Linked DNA regions of Homo sapiens: region 2 is linked to region 1. A link means that fine-mapping ties the variant in region 1 to the expression of a gene that starts in the linked region. Tissue or cell type: monocytes. Region 1 holds a variant in brackets; the other region holds the start of a gene. All regions are shown on one strand. Distances are from middle to middle.

The links. PIP is the estimated chance that this variant, and not a neighbour inherited with it, causes the effect.
Region 2: RAB18 starts here. The variant in region 1 is fine-mapped to the expression of RAB18 in monocytes (TOPMed, PIP 0.98).

Annotation. Positions count from the first base shown.
Region 1 is chr10:27,454,807-27,462,916 of GRCh38, forward strand. No RefSeq gene overlaps it. Among named protein-coding and RNA genes, the nearest start is that of PTCHD3, 45 kb to the left of the region's middle. The variant C/A (reference allele first, on the strand shown) is at 3,339.
Region 2 is chr10:27,501,220-27,509,329 of GRCh38, forward strand. It overlaps RAB18 (RAB18, member RAS oncogene family), which reads left to right and starts at 3,085. Exons shown (of 7, transcript NM_021252.5): 1 at 3,085-3,218. The coding sequence starts at 3,151. LOC124902399 (a long non-coding RNA gene) reads left to right here and starts at 3,226. Exons shown (of 2, transcript XR_007062097.1): 1 at 3,226-3,505; 2 at 3,760-3,873. RefSeq lists enhancers at 2,781-3,050, 3,161-3,220.

The sequences.
Region 1 (8,110 bases):
GAGCTCTGAATGGGCTCTAATTTGATGTTTCTATCTATGCCTTGATTCATTTCTACTGTTTTTTTAGCCCCCTCCTGCCTTGCTTTTGTTTTACAGTCTAAGCACAGAGGGTACACTTGGAGAAGCATTTGGATGAAATCTGGTAAGAAACCAGTTGAAGTATATCGAGCAGCCCAACCCCAGGACACCCATATAAATCTAGAATGTAACCTTTGGAAAACGCTGACCTTGTAAATTAACCAGAAACATCAAAGAAGGAGATTATACTGTGTACATTCAGAATGCAAAAGAAAGAGCCATCTTTACTTGTGAAACAATGACCTTTGTTCTGCATCTGTGTTATGATGAATTCTCAAGTCTGATGAGGTGAGACTCCGTAGTTCTCAGTAGTTGGGTCCTAATGAGCTGGATTTTCCATATTGTCTAATCCACTTTGTCTATAGCTAGGTGCTTAGGGAGGCCACTCGAAGTCTATTAGATTGGAATGCTAAAAAACAGGTCCCCTGTGACCTAAGAGAGATAATATATCTCACTCATTAGGGGTACAACTAGGTTCCTGGCTTACTGGAAAAAAAAAGATTCTTATTATTTATATATTTTTATTTAATTTTTAAACTGAACTTTAGGTGTCTTTATTAACACTGAAAAGAATATCCTTATAAATAAAATGACAGCTCTGTAAAAAAAAAATCAGTTGGCATTGAAACTGGTGGATTATACTCATTCTTTACCTACAGACATATTACTAATGTTTTTATCTCATTGTAGATGACTTACAGGCATGTTACTAATGTTTTTAATCTCATTATAAACCACTTGTTGGCAAGAGTTAGACATACATTTTTATAGATGCTAAAAATGTAGCATTGGGCACAGTGGCTTACGCCTGTAATCCAAGTATTTTGGGAAGTCGAGGCTGGAGGATCACTTGAGGCCAGCAGTTACAGACCAGCCTGGGCAACATAGCAAGACCCTGTCTCTACTTAAAAAAATTAAAAGGTTTAGCTGGGTATGGTGGTATGTGTGTGTAGTCCTAGGTACTTGGGAGACTGGGGCTGGAGGATTGAGCCCACGAGTTAGAGGCTACAGTGAGCTATGATTGTGCCACTGTACTCCAGCCTAGGTGAGATCCTTTCTCTTAAAAAAATACACACACACACACACACACACACACAAACACACGCAATTCATTATATGATCTAGTGGTAAAAAGGCTTAAAAATTGGAAACATAAACACATGTAATTCATTATATGATCTAGTGGTAAAAAAGGTTTAAAAACTGGAACTATAAAGAGCAGAAAATGAGTCTCCTCTTTGCCCTAGATCACTTCTTGTTTCAATTTTCAGTGTTCCTGAGCTTTCCTTTCCAGTTTTCCCTCTGTTCCTGAATAGTAACCATTGTTAGCTGTTTCATGTGAATCTTTCCCAAACTCTATCTACACACACACACACACTGCATCTGGATCATGATGCATATATATATATGATTGTGATTGTCAGTTTTATGTGTCAACTTGGCTAAGGTACAGTTTCCACTAATTCAATCAACACTAACCTGGGTGTGTTGCTGTAAAGGCATTTTTGTAGATGTGATTAAAATCCATATTCTGTTGATTTTGAGTAAGGGAGATGATCCTAGATAATCTGGATGGGCCTGATTCAGTCATTTGAAAGTTCTTAAGAGCAGACTTGAGTCTTCCCTGAAGAAAAAGGAATTCTGCCTATGGATAGCAGCATCAGTTCGTGCCTGACAGTTCCAGACTTCTCTCCCTGATGGCCTGCTCTGTGGTTCTCAGACTGCCTAGCCAGTCTGACAGTTGGATACACATATTCCTTGCAATAAATCTCTTAACATGTATTTCCTACTGATTTTGTTTCTTTAGTTGAACCATGACTGATATATATAAATATTTCTACGGCTTGTTTTTTCACTAACAATGTGTCTTAGAGATGGCTTGAACCATGTCTGGCATATTATATTTCTGTAGCTTGCTTTTTCACTAACAATGTATTTCAGAGATGGCATATTTAACTGCTGCATAGTGTCACAAAAAATGTCCCACAATAAGGATATAGCATAGCTTATCTAATCATTCTGTTACGGTGGATATGTGAGTTGTTCACATTCAAATTTAAATTAGATTTAAATTTATTTTCACTTGCTACTTTGAAAATTGGCTCAAATGTCTTTTTGCATCCAGCATTGTAATGATAAAATCTAATATCAATCTGATTCTTCCTCTTTTGCAGGTAATTATTTTCCTTCTTTGAAGGCTTTGAAGATATTGTTCTTACCCTTTAATATTTCACAAGAACTTATCTATGGTTGTTTTCATCTGGATCAATTTTCAGTAGTCTTTACAGAAGGAGCAGGGTTGAAAAAAATAAAAACATTTCAGTAGTCCCTTTCAATCTGAAGACTCATGTCTTTTGATATTCTTGGAAATATTCTTCTATCATTACTTTTATTATTATTTTTTCAATACTTTCTGTTCTGTCCTGGAACTCTAGTTAGATGGTTGCAAGACCTTCTGGAATTCTCCCTCAAGCCTTAGTTTTTATTTTGTGTTTACCACCCATTCATTCCATTGCACTGCATTTAGGGCAAGGTAATCAGTTTGATCTTTCAGCTTTGTGAACATGCTCTTCAGTCATGTCCATTCTATCACTCAGCCCTGGTACTGAGTTTCATTTTAATAGTGAGTGGTATTTTTATATTTCTAAGATCTCAAATTGTTTTCATAGTTGTATTTTTATAGTTACGATATCCTCCTGAGGATATTAATTTTACTTTTATTAAAGGCTCATTTTGTTTGCTCTAGTAACCTTTTTCCCTAGGGAGTTACTTCTGTTGATTAAGTTGAGTATGTATCTTTTATGAGATTGGTTTTCCTCATCTGTGTGGTAATTGTTGGCTTAGGTCTTGTATTTGTGTGAGGTCTGTCTCCAAGGATGTGGAGGAGGAACCAGATGTGTTACTGGATGAGGAATGCCAGGTCCGCATCCTTAGGGGGTGCTCCTTGGACTGCTTCGACAATGCCATTCACAAAGGCCCTGCCCTGCCTCTCCACCTTAAAAACCCACACTTTTCTCCAACCTGAAGCAGATGCCTCAGCTACCTGCTACTGACAAAATGGGGAGGTCTGTGGGGCAGGGGGAAGGGAATCAATCCATCTAGCTAGTCATTATAGATAACAATTTTGTCCCAGGGCTCCTCTTTTCAATTTTAATTTTTTTCCCAATTAAAAAATGGTAAAATACACATAACATAAAATTTACAATCTTAATCATTTCTAAATGTACTGTCCAGTGGCATAAGGTTGCGCAACCATCACC[C/A]CCATCCATCTCCAGACCACTCATCTTGCAAAACGGAAACTCTGTATCTCTTAAGCCACTCCTTATTCCTTCCTGTCCCCAGCCCCCATCTAACCATCATTCTTCTGTCTATCTCTATGATTTTGACTACTCTAAATAAATACCTCAGACAAGTGGAATCATACAGTATTTGTCTTTCTGTGATTGGCTTATTTCAGTTAGCATGATATCCTCAAGTTTCATCCGTGTGTTAGCCTATGTGAGAATTTTCTTCCTATAATGGCTGAATGATATTCTATTGTGTGTATATACCACATTTTGCATATCCCTCAAACACTGACAGACACTTGAGTTGCTTCCATGTTTTAGCTGTTGTGACTAACGCTGTTATAAACATGGGCGTACAAAACTCATGGCTCTCAAGCCCCTGTTTCCCATCCTTGACTTGAGGATTTGGTCAGGGGAGAGCGGCGCAGATTCTTTGGTGCCTATTTTGCTGGTACTGTAAAAGGGAGAGCTACATGACATAAACCCTATTTTTTCTTAAAATTTTCATTGTGTGGTATTTGCATGTACAATAAAAATTGGAGGGTGTGTAAACTTTAATAGAACTAAAAGAATCTCAGGACAAAATGGCTGCTTAGTTACATCCTGATAATTTAGCCTAGGACAAGAACACAGGAAGTTTGTTTGTGTCATTTGTACCAATAAATCAAGCCCTTTACATTCGGTCATTTCAGGAGTAGCATTGTGCACTGTCAGGGGGCACAGGCTCCATAGTCAGGCACCTGTGTTCACATCCTGGGTCGACAGTGCCTTAGGTGTGTAACTTTGGACAAGTTAAATGGGGTAGTAGAGTACCTGCCTCTGAGGAGCTTAGGTAGTGCTGGTACTTTGTAAGAAGTCAATAAATTATAAGTGTTGTTTTCTAAACAGCAAAATAACTATGTTAGTATTTATAATGTTTAGAACAATTGTTTTAGTTATAGGAAGGCTTTCTGATCTTTACTTTTATGCCAGACCAGTGAAACTGACTCATCTAGAAATAGTTTCTGAGGTTTTTGTGCTTTGCCCTGGCTGAGCTCTCTCCTTCCAGCACAATCCCTGGGAAGGTTGGGATGGGGTAGGGACAGATAGCTTATGCTATGGCAGCCTCCTAGAATGTGGACAATCTGCAGTGCTTTCCGAGCTTGAAGATTCAAGTTGTGACACATTCTGCATTTTCTTTCAGCAGTGTGTAGTCTGAATTTGAGGTCTTTACATATATTTCTCCGTTTTGACTCTTTAGTACACAAGTCTACCAAAGGAACAAAATATCTTGCCACGGCACCACTACAGCTAATAAAAGAAAGAGACTTCAGAACTTTAAATTTAATTTCAAAAATTAGATATCTAGAAATAGTCTATTAGGCAAGGCAGTAGTTTTATTTTTTTCCCCAATGACAGTACACTGCACACAAATACATTTAAATAATTACAATTTTTAAAACTTTCCAGAGTGAAGCTCTGAAAGTGACAACATTCAGGCACTAACTTTGATAATGGGCAATTTAAACAACATATGGGAACATTTAGAAAAATCTGTAAGTCAATGATCAAAATTAATTCATTAGACATTTAGATTTCTGTCATGTACTTGCATAAGTGTTGCCTTATTCTGTGGGGCCAGTGGTTCTTTTGGTGACACACCATGTCGCAGCTGGAAAACATTACTATTTTCTGTACTTGTCAAAAATGTTTTGTAATCATTACCCTAATTATATATATGTGTGTGTGCATGTGTGTGTGCGTGTGTGTGTGTATATATATATAGTACTGAATCACGGTAAATAAAACATTCATAATAAAGTGAATTATTGGTGTGAAATGAACTGCATTTTAAAACAAAAATAAATATGAGTTGGATCTTGAGCTGAGTAGCAATTTTAAATTAAAAGCCATACAGAAATAAATGACAGCAATTTGATTTTGCTTTCTTGAATCGTCACACAACAGTTTTATATATTTTTAGTATCTAAAAAGCATAAGCTATATCTTAGACTTCACAGTTCACTTCTAAGAGCTGGTAATAATTTGTCATCAACACAAACTAATTAACCAATAAAAGTATTCTGAAGTGTTTAGTCTAATTATATTGTTGCAGCTAAGTCAGTTGTAAGACCTCCATTTTTGGCAGTTGTGTTTAGTATGAAAATAATCTTTGTCATACTTTCAGGACTTTAAAAATTTTGTGAATAACTGTTGACATTTTTTAATATTAGAGCTAAAGAATTTTACAGATAGTAGGGAGCTAGGCAGTTATCTGGGCTACCTCTTTTATTTTACATAAAACTTTGGAGGTTACAGAGAAGAGCTTAAATGGTTTATTCCTGGTGATTGGGATCTGTTATTCCTACTTCACTTCTCTATATTTTTCCCTCTTTATTTTTAGCAAAGAAAGTTCTGCAACACTGATGGCTTTATTTTTGTCTATTTTTATGCCATAGCTAATAGAGTATGCGTCTTGGTTTGCTAAATGTACTTTCTTTTGGCTATTCAGTAGAAATACTTGTCTCGAGTCTATAACTTGTTGATGGAAAGAAACTTCAAACTCTGTAAAGTATTTTAAAGAGGTTTATTCTAAGGCAATATGAGTGGCCATAGCCCAGGGAACGGTCTTGAGAACTTCTGAGAAAGAGTGCCCTAGGCAATTGGGTTACAATTTGGTTTTATACATTTTAGGGAGATGGGAATTGCAGGTAAAATACTAAATTAATACATGGAGGGTAAACATTTGCTCAGCCCAAAGAGGTGGGATATCTTGAAGCGGGCAGTGAGATGAGGGGTGGGGTGGGGAGGATTACAGGTCATAGGTGGATTCAGAGATTTTTCTGGTTGGCAATTGGTTGAGAAAGAGTTAAGCTTTGTCTAAAGACTTGAAGTCAGTAGGAAAAAAATGCTTGAGTTAAGATAAGGGGGCTTATGGAAACCAAAGTTCTTGTTAAGTAGATAAAGTCTCACAGGTAGCAGGCTTCAGAGAGAATAGATAGTAAATGTCTCTTTTTGTATCTTTAAAGGTATCAGATGCTTGGTTAATCTCTCCTAGATCCAGGAAAGGCCTGCAAAGGGAAGGCCTGTCTGCATTAATGGAGATTCTCTACAGATGCAAATTTCCCCCACAAAGACAGCTTTGTGGGGCAATTTCATAATATGTCAAATAAATATATTTTGGGTTAAAATATTTTGATTTCTCTCTGGGTCTGCTATGTGTCACGCAATCCTACACCAGAGTCAGGTTGGAATTTGGTAGCTTATTGCCACAAAGAGTCTGTTTTTTCAGTCTTGTGATCTCTATTTTAATTTTATTTAAATTTATTTTAAGTACTTTAATTTTATTATTTTTATTAATAAAAGTTATTACTTTTATTTTATTAAATTAATTTATTTTAAAATTTATTGTAATGTTGGTCAGTTGTGTCTAAACTCCAAAAGGGAGGGGGTATAATGAGGTGTGTCCAACCTCCTTTAATGTCATTAATTCAGTTTTTCAGATTTCTCTGGGGTCCCCTTGGCCAAGAGGGAATCCATTTAGTCAGTTGGTGGGGGCTTAGGAATTTATTTTGTTTACAAACCTATTAAACTTTCAGTGGCCTTCAGAGAAATAGTCCTTATCCTGATGGCTGTCTTCTTATGTTTACGGTACCACCAGCTGATTAATTTACTTAAAATAATTAGAACTCTCTTGGGTATAGTGAAGGAAAATCTTTTTTTTAATAAAATCACTTTAAAAAGTAATTCTGGGAGGCCGAGGCTGGTGGATCACGAGGTCAGGAGATCGAGACCATCCTGGCTAACACAGTGAAACCTGGTCTTTACTAAAAAATACAAAAAATTAGCTGAGCATGGTGGCGGGCGCCTGTAGTCCCAGCTACTTGGGAGGCTGAGGCAGGAGAATGGCATGAAGCCGGGAGGCGGAGCTTGCAGTGAGCCGAGATCACACCTCTGCACTCCAGCCTGAGTGACAGAGGGAGACTCTGTCTCAAAAAAAAAAAAAAAATAATAATAATAATAATTCTATTAGTCCGTTCTCACACTGCTGTAAAGAACTGCCTAAGACTGGGTGATTTATAAAGGAAAGCATTTTAGTTGACTCACAGTTCCGCATTGCTGGGGAGGCCTCAGGAAACTTACAATCATGGGAGAAGGCAAAGGAGAAGCAGGCACCACCTTTGCAGGGTGGCAGGACTGAGTGAGTGCAAGCAGGGGAAATGCTAGAAGATTATAAAACCGTCAGATCTCGTGAGACTCACTCATTATCAGGAGAACCATCCCCATGATCCAATTACCTCCACCTGGTCCTGCCCTTGATACGTGGGGATTATGGAGATAACAATTCAAGATGAGATTTGGGTGGGGACACAGAGCCAAACCATATCAGTAATTTATTAAATATATACTATGGACTCTTATAAAACAATGTAGCTTCTGGAAGATGTGGGGGATAGCTGGGCCTCAAGGACACCTGGAACCAAGCCTTGTTTGCCCACAAGATTCTTATGGTTTATCTGTTTGTTTGTTTGTTTGTTTTTCTGCCTGTCTTGGCTTCCTTCTTTTTGAAAACAGGTGAATTTTTCTCCAAAAGTCTGCTAGGAGACCGGAGTTTGAATCGTTAAGCGTTTCACAAGTCCAGTTGTAAAATTCTAGGAAAAGGACACTGATTGGCTTAGCATGGACCATGTGCCTGCTTAAAGACCAGTCAACTGATGCAAGGAAATGAATTACTACCGTAACAACATCTTGGCTCAGGGGACCAC
Region 2 (8,110 bases), 46 kb after region 1:
TCTCATCTGTTGTCTATCTCTGGGGCTGCCCACTGTAGGCATGTTACTGACAGCAACATGGGATGGGCCTTCTCCATCACATCTCCAAGTGGTTTCGCCATTTCAATTTCTTCCTACATACTGGGCTTGCTCATTGCTCATCCCAAACTTCAGGTATTAAGAATATTGCCATAGACATTCCTTTATGAGGTGATCATATATTTGGATATGGTAAAAATAATTAATACTAGAAGATGGATCCACAGGGAAAAGGGCAGTCAGTTATGTCTGAAACCTAAGAAAGGATTTGGCTGTGTTTTCCAGGGATGTAAGGATAATAGTATATAGAAGAGAACACCTAGGCCAAATTGTTGGTTAGAACACCTAGGCCATCTCCTTGGTTCATTTTTTTAGTGTCTTGCTATCTGTCCTGAATCTTGGAACCACTGCTCTAAAAGAGGTCTGAAAAATTTTGCCTTCAAGGCTCACCTTTACATAAAATTCACTATGGCTGAAACGAAACTCATATTCCTTCTTGTTTCTGTCTTGGGTTTTCTCTCAGATTGGTAGTGCCGAGGCTTGAAACATTAGAGAAATGTTCGATGTTTTTCTTTCCCTTTTCTTTCCCCTCTTCTTCACTAAGCATGGGACAGTTATTCATTGTGTCTTTTAAGTACATCTCTTTATTGCCAGCCCCCATGTGGGGATGTCTTGGCAGTTGTGTATGTTGGCCTGAACCTCAGGAGAAAAATCTCAGCCAGAGATGTAAATTCGGGAGGCCGAGGCAGGGGGATTGCTTGAGCCCAGCAGTTTGAGACCAGCAACATAGCAAGACCCCATCTCTAAAAAAATGTTTTAAAAATTAGTTAGGCGTGGTGATGCATGCCTGCAGTTCCAGCTACTCAAAGGCTGAGGTAGGAGGATTACTTCTTGAGCTCAGAAGTTAGAGACCACCCTGGGCAGCATAGCAATATCCCATCTCTTAAAAAAAAAGAAAAGAAAAGAAAAGAAAAAGAAAGAGAGGAAATGGCCAAGAGATGGAGGAAATCCAAGAGAAAATGATATTGCCAAAGTACGTCAACAGTATTACAGGTTGCAAGAGATAGCCCTGGATTTATTGATGAAGTTTTTGTTTTTGTATTTATCTTGGTGTGAATAGCACAGTGCAATGGTTCTCACACTTTTTGGTTGTACAAATTATAGTATACTCTTAAAAATCATTGAGGACCTGAAAGAGCTTTTGATTGTAAGAACCCCAAAGAGATTACATCTCTTATTTATCCTACTAGAAATTAAAACTGAGAAAATTTCAAACATGTTAATTTACTTAAAAACAATAATAAACCTATTACCAGTTAATAGAAATGTTTATGAAAATAACTACTTTAAAACAGAACAAAATTGAGAACAGTGGCAATGTTTTACATTTTAGGAAATCCCTTTAATATCTGGCTTAATATCATAGAAAACCAGTAAGTTCACATATCTTGTTCTGCCTTCAATCTGTTTTGCTATTACATGTTATTAATATATAGCCTCTGGAAAACTCCATTATATTATCATCAGAGAATGTGCATGAAAAAATAACATATTAACTATGAAAATAGTTTGATCTTGCAACCCCCCTGAAAGGTTTTCAGGGATTTCTAGGGATCTCGGGACCCCAGGGCAGGAGAGCTTGACAATACTGTGAACCTCATAAATAAGATCTTTTTGTCATAATGAAAAGTAAGCTAGATAGACTTGACTGAAGTTTCAAGGGCTATCTGATGAGAAGTGGAGGTTGTTTCATTGACATTATTCTCTAAGGTTAGGAATGGACTCTACAACATTCATTCAATTAATTCATTCAGCATACATTTATTTAGCACATATTATGTGCCATGAAGTACTCTAGATACTGAAGACATACCAGTAGACAAAACAAAATATCCTTGCCTTCATGAGACTTCTAATAAAGTAGTAAAATATATAGTGTATCAGAGAGTGGTTAAATCCTATGCAGAAAAACAATGTAAAGAGGTCTAGAGAATGCTGGAGGGATTTGCATATTTCAGTAGAATGGACAGGGAAGGCCTCTTTAAGAATGCAACATTTGAGCGAAGACCTGAAGGAGGAGAAGCCATTGGGATATCTTTTGAAAGGGCTTTTCCAGCTATTTAACAAATTAATTTCTTAACATTTGAAATTTTATTTATATGTAGTCTTTAATCAAATATCCATTGTATATGACATTAGCTGCAGGTATAAGGAAATAAGACAAGAGAACTGAGGTTTATTGAGTGCCTGCCATGTACCAGGCACTGTGCTAAGTATTATGAATGAGGTTTGGTACCTTCACTAAGATTTACAACTTAATGCAGGAGGCAAGGTGTAGACATACACTTCCTGCAGTATGGGTGTAGCAGTTCTTATGAGGAAGGAGAGTTGACTTGAAGTTGCACCGCCAGAAGTAATGCACCTGACCTACCTGAAGTCTACGCCTCCCTTTCAAGATGAATTAGGGTGCAGAGGGTGCTCTCCACTATAACAGAGGGGAAGCCAGCAAGATAATACCTGATCACACCTTTTATAGAGCACTTTGGTTAACAACATGTCTTCACAAATTAACTCACTTAACCTTCATAACAATAAGAAGCAGATGTTCTAAGAAGTGTTACTGTGTCTCTCAGAGATGGAGAAAGGCTAAGAAAGCTGGGTAGTATGACAAGGCAGTTATAAGGTAGAGCTGGACCTAAATTTAAGATAATCTGCTTCAAGCACAGTGCTTTTCCCACCGCAGTGCAGCTGTTATGAGCAGCTGCCGAAATAAAACAGCTTGATATTCTCCTGACTGAGTCCTCCCACTGACTCAAAAGGAGGGTTAGGTTGAGGCTGGGGCGGAGCTAGACCTCAAGAAGAAGCCAACAAAGTCACACACAGCGCTCCCCACCTGCGCTTGCGCAGGGGAGGAACACGCAGTCCGGAAAAACGCCGGGGATTCTGGGTCGCGCAGCCGTGGAGCTACCTCAAGGCGGAACTGGGGAGTCCAGGGCTTCGGCAGCCTGAACACCCGGTGTGAAAGGAAGGTGGCAGACGTGGAGCGGCGCGCATGCGCAGCAGCTCACTCTGCTGAAGGGCTGAGAGGCGCACCCGGGCGGCCAGCTGGGCTCGGAGCGGAACGGGGTCAGGATGGACGAGGACGTGCTAACCACCCTGAAGATCCTCATCATCGGCGAGAGTGGGGTGGGCAAGTCCAGGTGAGGCGGAGGTGCGGGTCGTGACGAGGGTGGCTGGGCTCTTTCTGCCCCGGTGGCTGCTGTCTCCTGGGCCGCGACGGGAACTGTAAACTGCAGCGGCGGGCTCGGGCCGGCTCCGCTCGCGCCCTCCTCGGCCTCTGGGCCGCGCTCTCCCGCGACGTTTGCTTTCCTCTCCCCACCCGCGCCTGCCTGGTTCCCGGCCTTTGCCAGGCCCAAGTTCTCTGGGTCGCTCTCCCTCCTGTAGCGCCGAGAAAACACCATTCCGAGGGCCGCCGCTCGGCCGGCAGGTTTGCTGCGCGGAGCTCAGGGCGTGGCGGGCTGGTTTGGGCCCGAATCCGGCCGGGGGCGCCTTGCCTCGAACCTCTCGGGGTTCAGGCTGCCTGCCACCCCGAGACCCGGGAGACATAGCTTTCCCACTTGAGGGTTTCTGTGGGGCCTTCTCTAAATACATAATGTCCTCGGGAAGTTTCGTGACGCCTTAGGTCCCATTCCTGGCCTGTTTGGGCGCAGCTTAATGTCGATTCTTTTACTTTTTTATTAGTCGGCTGTGAAAGAACTGGATCTTGTGACTGCTGGAAAATTTCGCTTTAGTGTAAGGTCCGAGTGCTTCAGCCGTGGGCCACCTTTGAAAATAAAATGTAATTGTTATTTCTCATTTTGCCACATCCTGTGGAGACAGAAGATTAGTGTTGTGCTTTCATTTTTTACTTTTTCCTTGGGGAAAATAATATTGACAGTGGAGTTGAGTATAAGGTAAGACATGGATCTAGGTGGATGTTGCTAGAGGGCTGTGATTTCATCCAGGTCTTGGAAGAGAGTTCTCCAGCTGATGTCATTCTTGCCATCTGATTATGAGTAGGTTATGTTCAAGGCCGTCCTGATCCTTAAACCACATTTGCACTCCAGGGGCTGTAATCAGTTTCATATTTTAGCTATACCTTCTGATACACGTATCTTTCAAATAATTTTTTGTATTTCATAAATTGAAATAGCCTTAATTCTACAAACTAGAATGAAAGCTCTCCTCAAATAACTTGTAAAAGTCACTTCATAAAGTCTTACTTTTTAAAAGCTTCTTCAGAATTTGAAAGCTTATGTAATATATTCTGATATTATTTACTTATTTATTTATTTATTTTTTGAGACGGAGTCTCGCTCTGTTGCCAGGCTGGAGTGCAGTGGCGCGATCTCGGGTCACTGCAACCTCCGCCTCCCGGGTTCAAGCGATTCTCCTGCTTCAGCCTCCCGAGTAGCTGGGACTACAGGCGCGCACTATCATGCCCAGCTAACTTTTGTACTGTTAGTAGAGATGGGGTTTCACCATGTTGGCCAGGATGGTCTCCATCTTTTGACCTCGTGACCCGCCCACCTCGGCCTCCCAAAGTGCTAGGATTACAGGCGTGAGCCACCAGTTTGACAACACATTTTCATAGTGTTCCTCATGTAATGTCCTCTGTGTCTACTGGAATGAAGGATTTGCACATACCAAGGAATAGAATAATGAAATACTATGAGTTAGCAAACCAGCATGATTTGTCTGTGTGTGTGTAAAAGGCATGAGTAAAATTATTTACATGATCATCTATTATTGCACATACATATTTGAGTGTTAAAAAGTTAAACGTTGTCTTAATAGGAATTTCACAGCCTTGTGATCTTTCTTTTTCTTTTCTCCTTTTTTCCTTGAGATATCGTTCTCATTTAAGTTCAGGCATATGAAATTAGTGTTTTTGAAGTCAAGAATGGTTGGTTGTCATTTCATGTAGTTCAACCCAATACATGGTTGGTTAGCACTTTTTCTAAATGTATTGCATGGATGACAAGTTAGGGTATGTTAAAATTTTCTGGAAGGTTAACTGGAGTATATAAACAAAATTCCTCTGCTCTACCCGCTGTTTTTTTGAGACAGGGTCTTATTCTGTCACCCAGACTGGAGTGCAGTGGCATGATCATAGCTCACTGCAGTCTCAATCTCCTGGGCTCAAGTGATCCTCCCACCTCAGCCTTTTGAGTAGCTGGACTATAGGCACGAGTCACCATGTCTGACTAGTGTTTTTTTATTTTTTATAGAGAGGAGGACTCACTGTGTTGCCCAGGCTGTCTCGAACTCCTGAGCTCAACAGATCCTCCTGCCTTGACCTCCCAAAGTGCTAGGAACATAAGCATGAGCCACCACAACCGGCCCTACTTCTAAAATTTTTTTCATAGATGGGATTTTCCTATGTTGCCCAGGTGGTCTCCAACACACAGGCTCAAGCCAAACTCCTGCCTCATACTCCTAAAGTGCTGGGATTACAGACACAAGGCATGACACCCAACCGAGGTTCTCCTTGTAGAGTAAGGCCTGTTAAGTGGATTTATCAGTCTCCCTAGTTCATGCCACCGAAACAAAGAAACAAATTTACCGTGGGCCTAATCTGTTTTAAACTTTTTCCTCAATACGTAGCAATGGATTATCAACTGCTCGATGCAGGATTTTGTCACTTTATTTCTTTTGTGAAAGGATTACATATAGTGAGAAAGTTGTCTTATTTGTCTAGCTAGATATACATTATTGGCCTGTGTGATATGCTGTGGAAAACAATCTTAAACACTCTGGATAAGATGAGAATAAATGACTCCACTGAAATAGAAGTCTATGCCTTTTAAAGTGAATTAGTACAAAAACATTTGCTGTGGATATGATCTTAAAGGATTGTTTTAACCAAGTTTGTTTCTATTTCATTACAGAGCTGGAGCTAGTGGAAGTGAGATAGCACTTGTGCTGTTGGGGAAAACAAAGGATATGTTTAATCCGAATTAGTGGATTACTTTCTAGTGATTTCATAGTGTTAGAGTCTAAAGGGTATGTGATAGTAGTCAGGAGATCAGGATTATGAAACTGGGGCTGCCACTTGTGTGACCTTGTGTGTGATACTTGAATGCTGTAGGCCTTCATTTCAAAAGCGAGGGGGTTGGAATAGAAACCTCTCAGACCCTAAATGTGTAAGACTCCAATTCTGTGGCTAGGCCTGGTAAGGTAAAGAGTAGCAGAATATATCAAGAACTGGAAGGGATTAGAGAGACCTATTATCTAAATTGCTGTCCCTCCTTTGCCCCTTGCCTTCCCTTTTTTTTTTTTTTTTGGTGAATTTCATATGTAAATTTAAAAAATGCAGATTAGTTATAATCACACTCTGTTTATTATAAATTTGGTCACATCTAAGTGCCATGGTGGTAGTTACTCCTTCCATCTCTACTTCTGCATGGGAAACATTTTGCTCCTTTAACTTTGAAAATATGAGGGTGTAAATATACAATACTATAAGAATGGTGCTTCTGCCAGGTGCAGTGGCTCATCCTGTAATCCTAGCTACTCGGGAGGCTGAGACAGGAGGATCTCTTGAGGCCAGGAGTCCGAGACCAGCTTGGGCAACATAACGAGACCATGCCTCTAAAAAAATAAAAATAAAAAAATTAGCCGGCCATGGTGATGCACACCTGTCATGCCAGTTACTTGGGGGGCTAAGGTGGGAGGATTAGTGAGCTGTGATTCTGCCACTGCATTCCAGCCTGGGTGACAGAGTGAGACCCTCTCTCTTAAAAAAAAAAAAAAAAAAGTGTGCTTCTTAATTATTTTGAGATTGTCAGTTCTTTTCAAAATCTAATAGAGAAATGGACTCTCTGTCCCTTTCAAAGTCTAATAGAGAAATGGACTCTCTGCCTAGAAAAATGCACACATAGAATTTAGAATACTTTTTGGGCTACCAGGGTACCCCTGTCTAAGATCTGATGTATACCCAGAGCCTGTATTAAAATTTGTTGCTTCACACCATGCCACCAATTCCCTGCCTCTCCTTACAAAGTACTGTTAATAACAAAGGCCATTTAAGGATTAGCAATTATGAGAGAAAAACCTCTGGCTTTGTGTCTGCACATTGCCATATGTTCAATAAATAATACCCAATATCATCATTATTGTATTATTATTATGATATTATTACAACTAGTCTACAAGGTAATCTTATGTTTTTGTAGTAATATTTTCTGTGGTGACCACGTGTAGATATTATGTATCTTTTCTTAAATTATGGGTAACTGAGTATGTTGGGAGAGAAGAAAAATTTTATAGGTAGTCTTTAAGAGTCTTACTAGTATTGTTACCTATGTTCCAAGTAACTAAATATAGTCAAGATGTTAAGTAGATAAATCTAGAATTTGACTCTTCTTTTTTACTTTGATTTTATGATGCTGGTTTTATGGTAAACACAAGAAAACAAAACCAAGTAAGGGAGAGTTAATCGTTCAAATATATTTAATGACACTGGGTTTGGAAACTACCAGGAGGCCATTATGTTTTGCAGAAACTCTATGGACAAAACATACCTCTACCAGCAATAATCACAACCTATAGAAAGAGTCATAAGATTTTTCTATAATTTAGATATCTGATGGCTGTTTCTTTGATTTTATTCATGCAAACAGGTCAATTAGGAGAGTCTTATACTTCAGAAGTTAACATGAGGGAAGATTGAATGACTTTAAAATCAAGGGCTTTAACAAAAGCTTAGATTTTATTTTTGAAGAGTTTCTAATAACTGACACTTCTGCTTCATAGTAAGTAAAATAATTCTGGAAGATGTAAAATCTTAGAGTACCCTTCTAATCTGGTGTCTTTTGCTTTTATCCTTTCTTTCTAGTTTCTTACCATTTCCTAGGTTTAGTCCTTTGTTCTCTCTTGCCATAACCATGGCGGTTGTCTTCCATTGATTTTCTTCCATTTTTTGTTAGTATTAACTTTTCAAAACAAAGAGCAGTACTTGTCTTAACTTTCTTTAAAAGCCTCCAGTAGCCTCCAGTTGCCTACTTGGTTTTACACACTCTACCTAGTGTTTGCCCGAGTCTATCTACTC